Homo sapiens: one gene and its partner. The protein of the gene in region 2 purifies or fractionates together with the protein of the main gene of each other region. This does not show direct contact. Each region holds a gene or a part of one and is shown on either strand. Other genes may lie near its edges.

Region 1 (3,500 bases), on a different chromosome or scaffold from region 2:
CGTGTGTGTGTGCATCTGTGTGTGTCTTAGTCCTTTTCAGCACACATGCTGAAGTAGGTTCCAATGAAATGAAATGAGGAAGTGCTTAACAGGGAAGCTGTCGCCTCAGCAGGGAGAGCAGCTCTCTCCCTCCTCCGCACAGAGGATGCCGGCTCCGGGGTAGAGAGTCCTCGTGAAATCCAATGGGCTTCTCTGCTGGAGTGAGTTCACCAGTCTCCCCACTGAGAAGTGTGTTTAAATTATTCAGTGAGCTTCTTTGATCCTATCTGTTGAACTATGTTTTGTTTTGTTTTGCTCTTTGCAGAGGGAAGTGTTTGTAGATGCTGGGCCACCTTCCAAAGCAATAAAAGGCCCATCCTAGAGCATCTGATGTGCCCAGCATGGTCTAGATTCTAATGGCCTGGTTTATTGCCACAAACAAAAAGAGAAAAGCTACATGGGAGGCAGGCTGCTGCCAGTTCTGCAGCTCTGGGAGTCACGGAAAGGCAGTAGTGCTACCCTGCTCACCTGCACTCAGCTACTTCCTCCCCTCCTTCCCACTAACAGGTTCAAAACACATTTCCTTTCTCAGGAAGTTCAAAGGCACAGATGGATGTTTGGTGACCTTTGCCAATATCTGAATTCAGGAAATTCAGAATGCTTAAAACATCACTATTGTTGGAGCAGGGTCTAACCCTGCCACATTCTCCAGGTCCTCAGCAAACCTTCCCATTGGTTCCTCCTCGGGGTTTGAGCTGGCTCTGGGCACCAAACAGCCCCAGACCTCAGCCAGAAGCAGCTCTTCACCAGTGCCTCCTGTTAATGGGGTTCTGAACAAATCTCTTTTTCTTATTTTTTCAGAAGAACATGAGCTGCCTGTGGACATGGAAACCATCAACCTGGACAGAGATGCAGAGGTAATGCCGCCTGCTCAGCCCAGCCTTGGGCGTGGTGATGGACCACCCTGTCAGGTTATCTTGTATGAGATTAGTAAGTTATTTCCCTAGAGAGGTGGCCTAAGCCTCCCTTGGTTGAGTCAGAGTCCCGTGTTCATGTTTTTCTTACCAGTGATTGTTATCCCCATGTCTATTCGACCCTTGAGGATTGTGTGGCAGATGAGATGCCTTTGACTCATACATTGTCTGGGTCTGATGATTACATTATACATGAGGGTCCCAATGGCCCCAGGCTGTGTATGACTGGCCACTGGGCCTCCTGAGCCCACAGCGTGTCTCTGATGGTGATGGGATGGGGTGCATATCCTCAGAACCTGAGCTTATGTTTTGTGCATACAGGATCTAAGGAATGAGAAAAAGATGTCATGTACCAATCATTTTAAGGGCCAGTTTTACATAAAACTTAGTCATCACTAAGCCAAAGAGCCCCCGCAGCACACCTTGTCACTGACATCTGTCTGCTGCAGACCCACCTGGCACTGCCTCCCCCACTGCTGCCCACTTCCAGGCCGCCTCTTCTAGGACGACACAGGTCTCCAGCCACTTTGCTATAGCTGAGTATAGATTTCTGCTTTGTTTCAGGATGTTGATTTGAATCACTATCGCATAGGGAAGATTGAAGGATTTGAGGTACTGAAGAAAGTGAAGGTGAGAGGGACTCTTATGAGGGGACTATGACGCTCACCCATAGGATGTGGATAAGTCCAGAATCGAGCAGTCAGTCCTGAGTTGTGGTCCTTGTCCCAGCCTGTGGGCGGCGTGGCTGCCTCCACCTTGTAGCAGGCCTTTCTTTACTGGGAGCACAGCAGGTGTGAGACAGCAGTCGAGGGACTTGAGGCACAGCCCTGGGGCTGGCTCTCCTGAGCCCAGGCAGCCAGTGACCTGTGACTCTGGCCTGCCTCGGTTTCTGTGCCTGTGTTCAATTAGGCACTCGCTGACTTTTACAGTCCTCCGTGCCTCTCATTGGAATTTGTCAAAATTGAGCCCACCAAAGGTTCTTATGTTCTGCCAGGAAGTGGCAGACACCCACACCCCAGGCCAACGCCTCCCTCCCCAACTGGCCTGCTTGGTGGGGAGCCTGCCTCCTGCCTCCCTTTGGGTTCCCGCCCTTCCTCAGGTGTGTTAAGGAATTATAGCTTAGTGCCCTTGCCCACCTGCCTCTCAAAGGTCAGCACCTTTCTAGGAAACAGCAGGAGAATGAAGACATGTCCTTCTACCAGAAAGGCCTTTCTTGTGTCCTCCAGTATCAGCTGAGGCCTTCTCGTGGCCTCCCCCTTGCCTGTGTCAATTGTCCCTTTTCCCATCCCCCAGACTCTCTGCCTCCGCCAAAATTTAATTAAATGCATTGAGAATCTGGAGGAGCTACAGAGTCTTCGAGAGCTGGATCTTTACGACAACCAGATCAAGAAGATTGAGAATCTGGAGGCGCTAACAGAGCTGGAGTGAGTCATGAGACCCACAGGAGAACAGCATGGTGGGAAGGCCACTGGGTGGGGGGTGTCCAGTCTCCAGAGCCAACCTCCTGCTGGCTCTTAGCCCTTGAGAGGCTGCCTCTGCCACAGGGTCCTGCCCTGCATCTGAATCCCAAGTCTCTGCCTCCTGTTTTCAGGGCTCCAGGAGGCCTCATCGGCTTCATGCATGTCTTTGGCTTCCTGAACAATCCTGACTTCCAAAGTAAATCTTTGATGGGAAGGCTGCAGTGGGGACTTCTGGAAAGCCTCCATTCAGGGATGATACTGAGATCGGTAGAGAGGAAAGTTAATCCAGAATTGCCTCTTGCCTTTTGAATACTCTTTTTTTTAATTACAAAAAAAAGTGACATTTCTAATTTAAGGAGTCAGGTCCTAGGCCAGGTGCAGTGGTGCATACCTGTAATCTCAGTGCTTTGGGAGGCCAAATTGGGAGGATCACTTGAGCCTAGAAGTTCGAGATAGCCTGGGCAACATAACAAGACCCTGTCTACAAAAATTAAAATTAAAATTAAAAAAGAAGGAGCCAGGTCCTAGTTATAACTTTACCTGGATTTCTGCCCTTTGTCGCTCATTCATTTTTGCTTGTTTTGTTTCTGTTTCTAATTCAATACTTCTCAGGCCCCTTCTGTGTGCAGAGCCTGGTGTGAGGTCCTGTCATGGGCACAAGTGTGAACAAAACATAGTTTCTGCCTCAAATACCATACTGGGAGCCAGGGCATCAGGAGCCTGTAGGCTGCCTCTGGCTTGCTCCGGGCTCCTGGGCAGCCTCCAAATCCCTCATGACAGCATCAGTGTGAGCCAGGCGGCAGCAGGGGCACAGTCAGAACCCCCCACCCTCTCCCACCCGGTAGTGACTGCCGTCCCCTGATGGGGACGCCACCTTTAGTGGTTAAATTGTGAGTTCTATGCAACCTATGCTCGTGAAATTTTTTTAAAAAACTGTTTTGGTTGTTCTCAGGATTCTAGATATTTCTTTTAATCTGCTGAGAAACATCGAAGGGGTTGACAAGTTGACACGACTGAAAAAACTCTTCTTGGTCAACAATAAAATCAGTAAAATTGAGAACTTAAGCAACTTACATCAACTACAGAT
Region 2 (4,175 bases):
AAACCCATCTCTACTAAAAATACAAAAACTTAGCCAGGTGTGGTGGCGTGCCTGTAGTTTCAGCTACTCTGGGGGCTAAGGCACAAGAATCGCTTGAACCCGGGAGATGGAGGTTGAAGTGAGCCCAGATCGTGCCACTTCACTCCAGCCTGGGTGACAGAGCGAGACTCTGTCTCAAAAACAAAACAAACAAACAAAGAAACAAACAAAAAAACTCTACATATTGGGTACAGTGTACACTGCTCAGGTGATGGGTGCACCAAAATCTCAGAAATCACCGCTAAAGAACTTATCCATGTAACCAAACACCACCTGTTCCCCCAAAACCTGATACTTAAAAAAAAAGCTGCTATCACCCATTATTTGAAAAATACAAATTTAGGAGGATGGTCAGAGGAAAAAACTATTAACCTAGGAGTTCTGAAACCTAGGGTCTACTTCCAGCTTTGGTAAGTAACTCTACAACTCTACATCCATTAAAGGAGATTTGACTAAAATTCCTTCAACCTTTAGCAGTGAATAACCTTTTTTGGGAGCGTCTTTTTTCAAGCGCTGAAGCAGTAGCAACATTAGGTCATTACAACTACACCACATCTAGGAAGTGCACTCAATATTACAATTCATTTTAACCTTCCATTTTAAAAGACCTTAAGTCTATAACTTGAAGAATATCTAAAAATTTAATTTTACATTGCCTCTCTTGGAGAAAAGGTGCTCTCCATCACATCAAGTGATAGAAATCCTAATAATAAACAATTTAAAAATAATCCGAACACACTGGATTGTACTGAGGAAATATTTTTACTTCTCCCAGTTCTTATTTATTTCTGGCTGGGAATGGATAGTTGTTAAAATCATCTCAACTTTCACCACAATCTAAATTCATCTTGCTTTGCCTTTATACATAAAGATAAGCAGAATTTGAGAAAATTCTAGTTGACCATTTTGACATGCCTCAAAGCTAGAGCAAAAATCCTATTTTCTTTGGCAACTCTCTTGGGTAAAGTTTTGGTTTTGATTAGGAAAAAAAGAAGCTGAGGGTCAAAAATATGGTAACTCATTAGCAATTTGCTTATCTACTAATGAAAACTAAAAACTACTTTTCTACGTTAACTGTGAAGCACATAACATATAGAAATATAGTTTTAGAAGTTGTCCTAAGAAATTCTAAATCTGACGAGAGACAGCTACAAGAGGGAAATTTCACAACCAACACAGCGGCACTTCGCGAGTCTCTATAACGTTAGTGATGCGTGGATTCCTTAGTCGTCCCCTTAGAAACCTCAGCTTCACTGGCCCTTCGCAAGCACCGGGATGGGTGCCGGGAGGGGTCGGTGGTCTGAGGATATTGCATGCGCCTGCGCAGATTTTTGTCGCTCTCGTAGTTAGAGAGGCCCGGATGGAGGACGCAGAGGCACGCTGTTGCCATGGCAGTGTGGTCCTGGCTGCCGCGGAGGCAGGTGCCGGGGTCTCCTTTGCCTCAATGTGAAGAGCTTAGAAAGAGGAGGAGAGGAGAACTCCCCCGGCCATCTCTGTGATCCCAGCCGCCGCATTTTACACAGGCAAGAGGGATATAGAGGGAGAGAAGGGAAGGACGATGCGGAGATGTTAATGGTGGGATAGAGGGTAAAGGTATAAACGTCTGGTATAGCTGGGAGGGAGGGTAGGTAGTGAGGGAAGAAGCTTTCTGGTGGCGCCTTATCCTCTGGAGTCCGAGGTCCACCGAGTCTGGCACTGGTGGGGAAGTCTGGTAACACCTTTCTTCACTATGTATGAAGGATACTCGTCTGAGAGTAGCTTAGACTAAATTTTTGTCATATTCTTTCCCCTCTCAAAGTTCTTGAACGTGGAAAGTAATAATTTTGTCCCTGGGAGAAAAAGTCACTCCCGAAATTGTAGCTTCCATGAGGAGGCAATGGTATTCATTTCGTTGGTGGTACCTTGGGATCCTGAATACAGATTAAAATTATCACCTAAAGTCCATAAAATATTTATCATCATACTTTGTGACAGTTTATGATTTTTTAAAAACTTACTTATAGGATCACAGTCTTGGCAGGATACACAGGAATAATGGGCCAGATGGTTTCATGATGTATGGATTAGTTTTTGCTTAAGTACTTACTTTATATTAAAAGGCATTCTCTTTGACATGCTTTCAGTTCTTAGATTTTTAAGCAAGCATATGTTTAAAACGCTGTAAGATGGGACCCAATTATTTAAACTATTTTTGAATATCCTGAATTCTGGAAGAAAGTTATCAAAATTATGTATACATGTGGACTTGGTTTAAGACTCCTACTGAAAGATCGGCAGTTCACCTATCCACATGGGATTTACCAGACACTCAGGGAGGAAGGAATTTATTTCCGTCTCTTACTACAGTTCCGTATTAAGAGGGTAGAGCTGGTCTAAGCCGTTTACCTAGATTTTTACTGATGATAAATGTTGAAATTTAAATGTGTGAAACTCACAAGCATAAAGTAGGAAGTGTTAAGTGATTTTGTTTGTATAAGATGTATTTTTGTTCTAGCTTGTTGATTCTGTACCATATGGACAGTACCCTGGTGATGAAGATTAAAAGAATTGAAGGGGTTGAATATCCTGTGACGCATTTGAAAAAGGCTTAAGGGATTTGATAACCAGAGTTTGTAATTTATGTTCTTTGTTTACTTGAGAACCGGCCATGAGGGTGTTTTTTTGTTTTTAAGTTACAACAAAAGAATTGCACTTCAGATTTGATGTGACTTAATTTACTTCTCAGAGTTACCTTAACTATGGCTTTTTTTTCCTTTGAATTATGGCATAATAGTATGACTTAAAGACCCCTAACCTGTTAAATTTTTAATTACTGTGCTTTTATTATACAGATTTTATGTTTTCATTTTAAATTTTAGTTTTCATGTGTGTGTGATTCTCTGTAAACAATAAAACATATCTACTAAAGTCTTCAGGCAACCATTTATTTATAAGTTCAGAACTATGTTTATCATAAAATAAGGGAAAGCACTGAAGAGTTCCAAAGAAATATTCTTATAATATTTATGTAACTCAAACATCTTAAAATAATAAATTTCAAGATCCCTGCTCTGAAAAGAAAACTGATTATTCCAAGGCATTGTGACTGTGAAAAGTACTATTTTTACTGTAAGTATTTCGGATTACAGTGAGTTTTATTCTGTATCATTCATGGTGCCCTTGCTTTTAATTGGTAGGTAGTTAGATATAATAGCTTAAGCAATTTAGCTTGTCTTGCAGTTAGGAAGTGAAACTCACTCTGAAGTGTTGACTTGATTTCTCCAGATCACTTCAAAATTTGTGCTCAACCTGATTTAGAAATTATTGAAGGGCTTACTTTTGAGTCCTTTAGCAAATCTATTTTGTGTTTTTAGTTTAAAATAAATAAGTATCTAGAAAGAATTATAGTCCAATGAATAGTTTAGAAAAAAACAATAATTATCCAGTTGAACAATTAACAGTTATTTTTGAATAATAATTAAGTTGAATAACAGTTATTATTCAGTAATAACTTAGTCTGGCCAAAGGTTTGGGGAGAACAAAGCGAAGCTAATGGCTAAAACAGCTGGTGGATTATTTATTAATTCAGCATACCTAAAGTGTACCAAAAATTAACTTTATCTTGAGAGGGAAAAGGAACCAACATCAATAACTATTTGGGGAACAGGGGGAAGGTGGGAGAGTTTTTAGGAATGTTTACCTATGGAAATGTCTTGCCATTGCAGATCTCTCTTTCATGGTGTATTCAAGTGCATGTTCATTTTGAACATTCTATTTTGTGTTTCTCTGTGTTAATTAGCTTACCTACAGCATTAATCTCCATACTCCATTCCTCCTCTAGAGTGGGCATAACATATACCTTATCTTTTAAAATCTTACAGCATATTTCCTTCACAAACAGAAAATGAATGAAAATAAAGATACTGATTCAAAGAAAAGTGAAGAATACGAAGATGACTTTGAAAAGGACCTGGAGTGGTTAATTAATGAAAATGAAAAAAGTGATGCCAGCATAATAGAGGTATATATTGCCAACAGCATTCATAATAATTATATTACAAAGTGCTTTGCAATTCTTTAAGGTTTTCACATTATTATCTCATCTAAACATCACAAAATTTCTTTGATCTACATTGGGCAAATTACTATTATCCTCA

What was found. Proteins that work in one complex are often made in the same cells at the same time.
Region 1: the proteins of CCDC181 (region 2) and PPP1R7 purify together in Homo sapiens (affinity purification with mass spectrometry; one large-scale study listed by BioGRID and IntAct). This does not show direct contact.

What each region holds. Positions count from the first base shown.
Region 1 is NC_000002.12:241,156,967-241,160,466, forward strand, and holds part of PPP1R7 (protein phosphatase 1 regulatory subunit 7), read left to right. Parts: intron 1-840; coding exon 841-896; intron 897-1,517; coding exon 1,518-1,583; intron 1,584-2,246; coding exon 2,247-2,377; intron 2,378-3,365; coding exon 3,366-3,500. UniProt on the Homo sapiens protein: Regulatory subunit of protein phosphatase 1.
Region 2 is NC_000001.11:169,424,675-169,428,849, reverse strand, and holds the start of CCDC181 (coiled-coil domain-containing protein 181), read left to right. Parts: upstream 1-1,375; 5' UTR 1,376-1,562; intron 1,563-3,899; 5' UTR 3,900-3,922; coding exon 3,923-4,039; intron 4,040-4,175. UniProt on the Homo sapiens protein: Microtubule-binding protein that localizes to the microtubular manchette of elongating spermatids.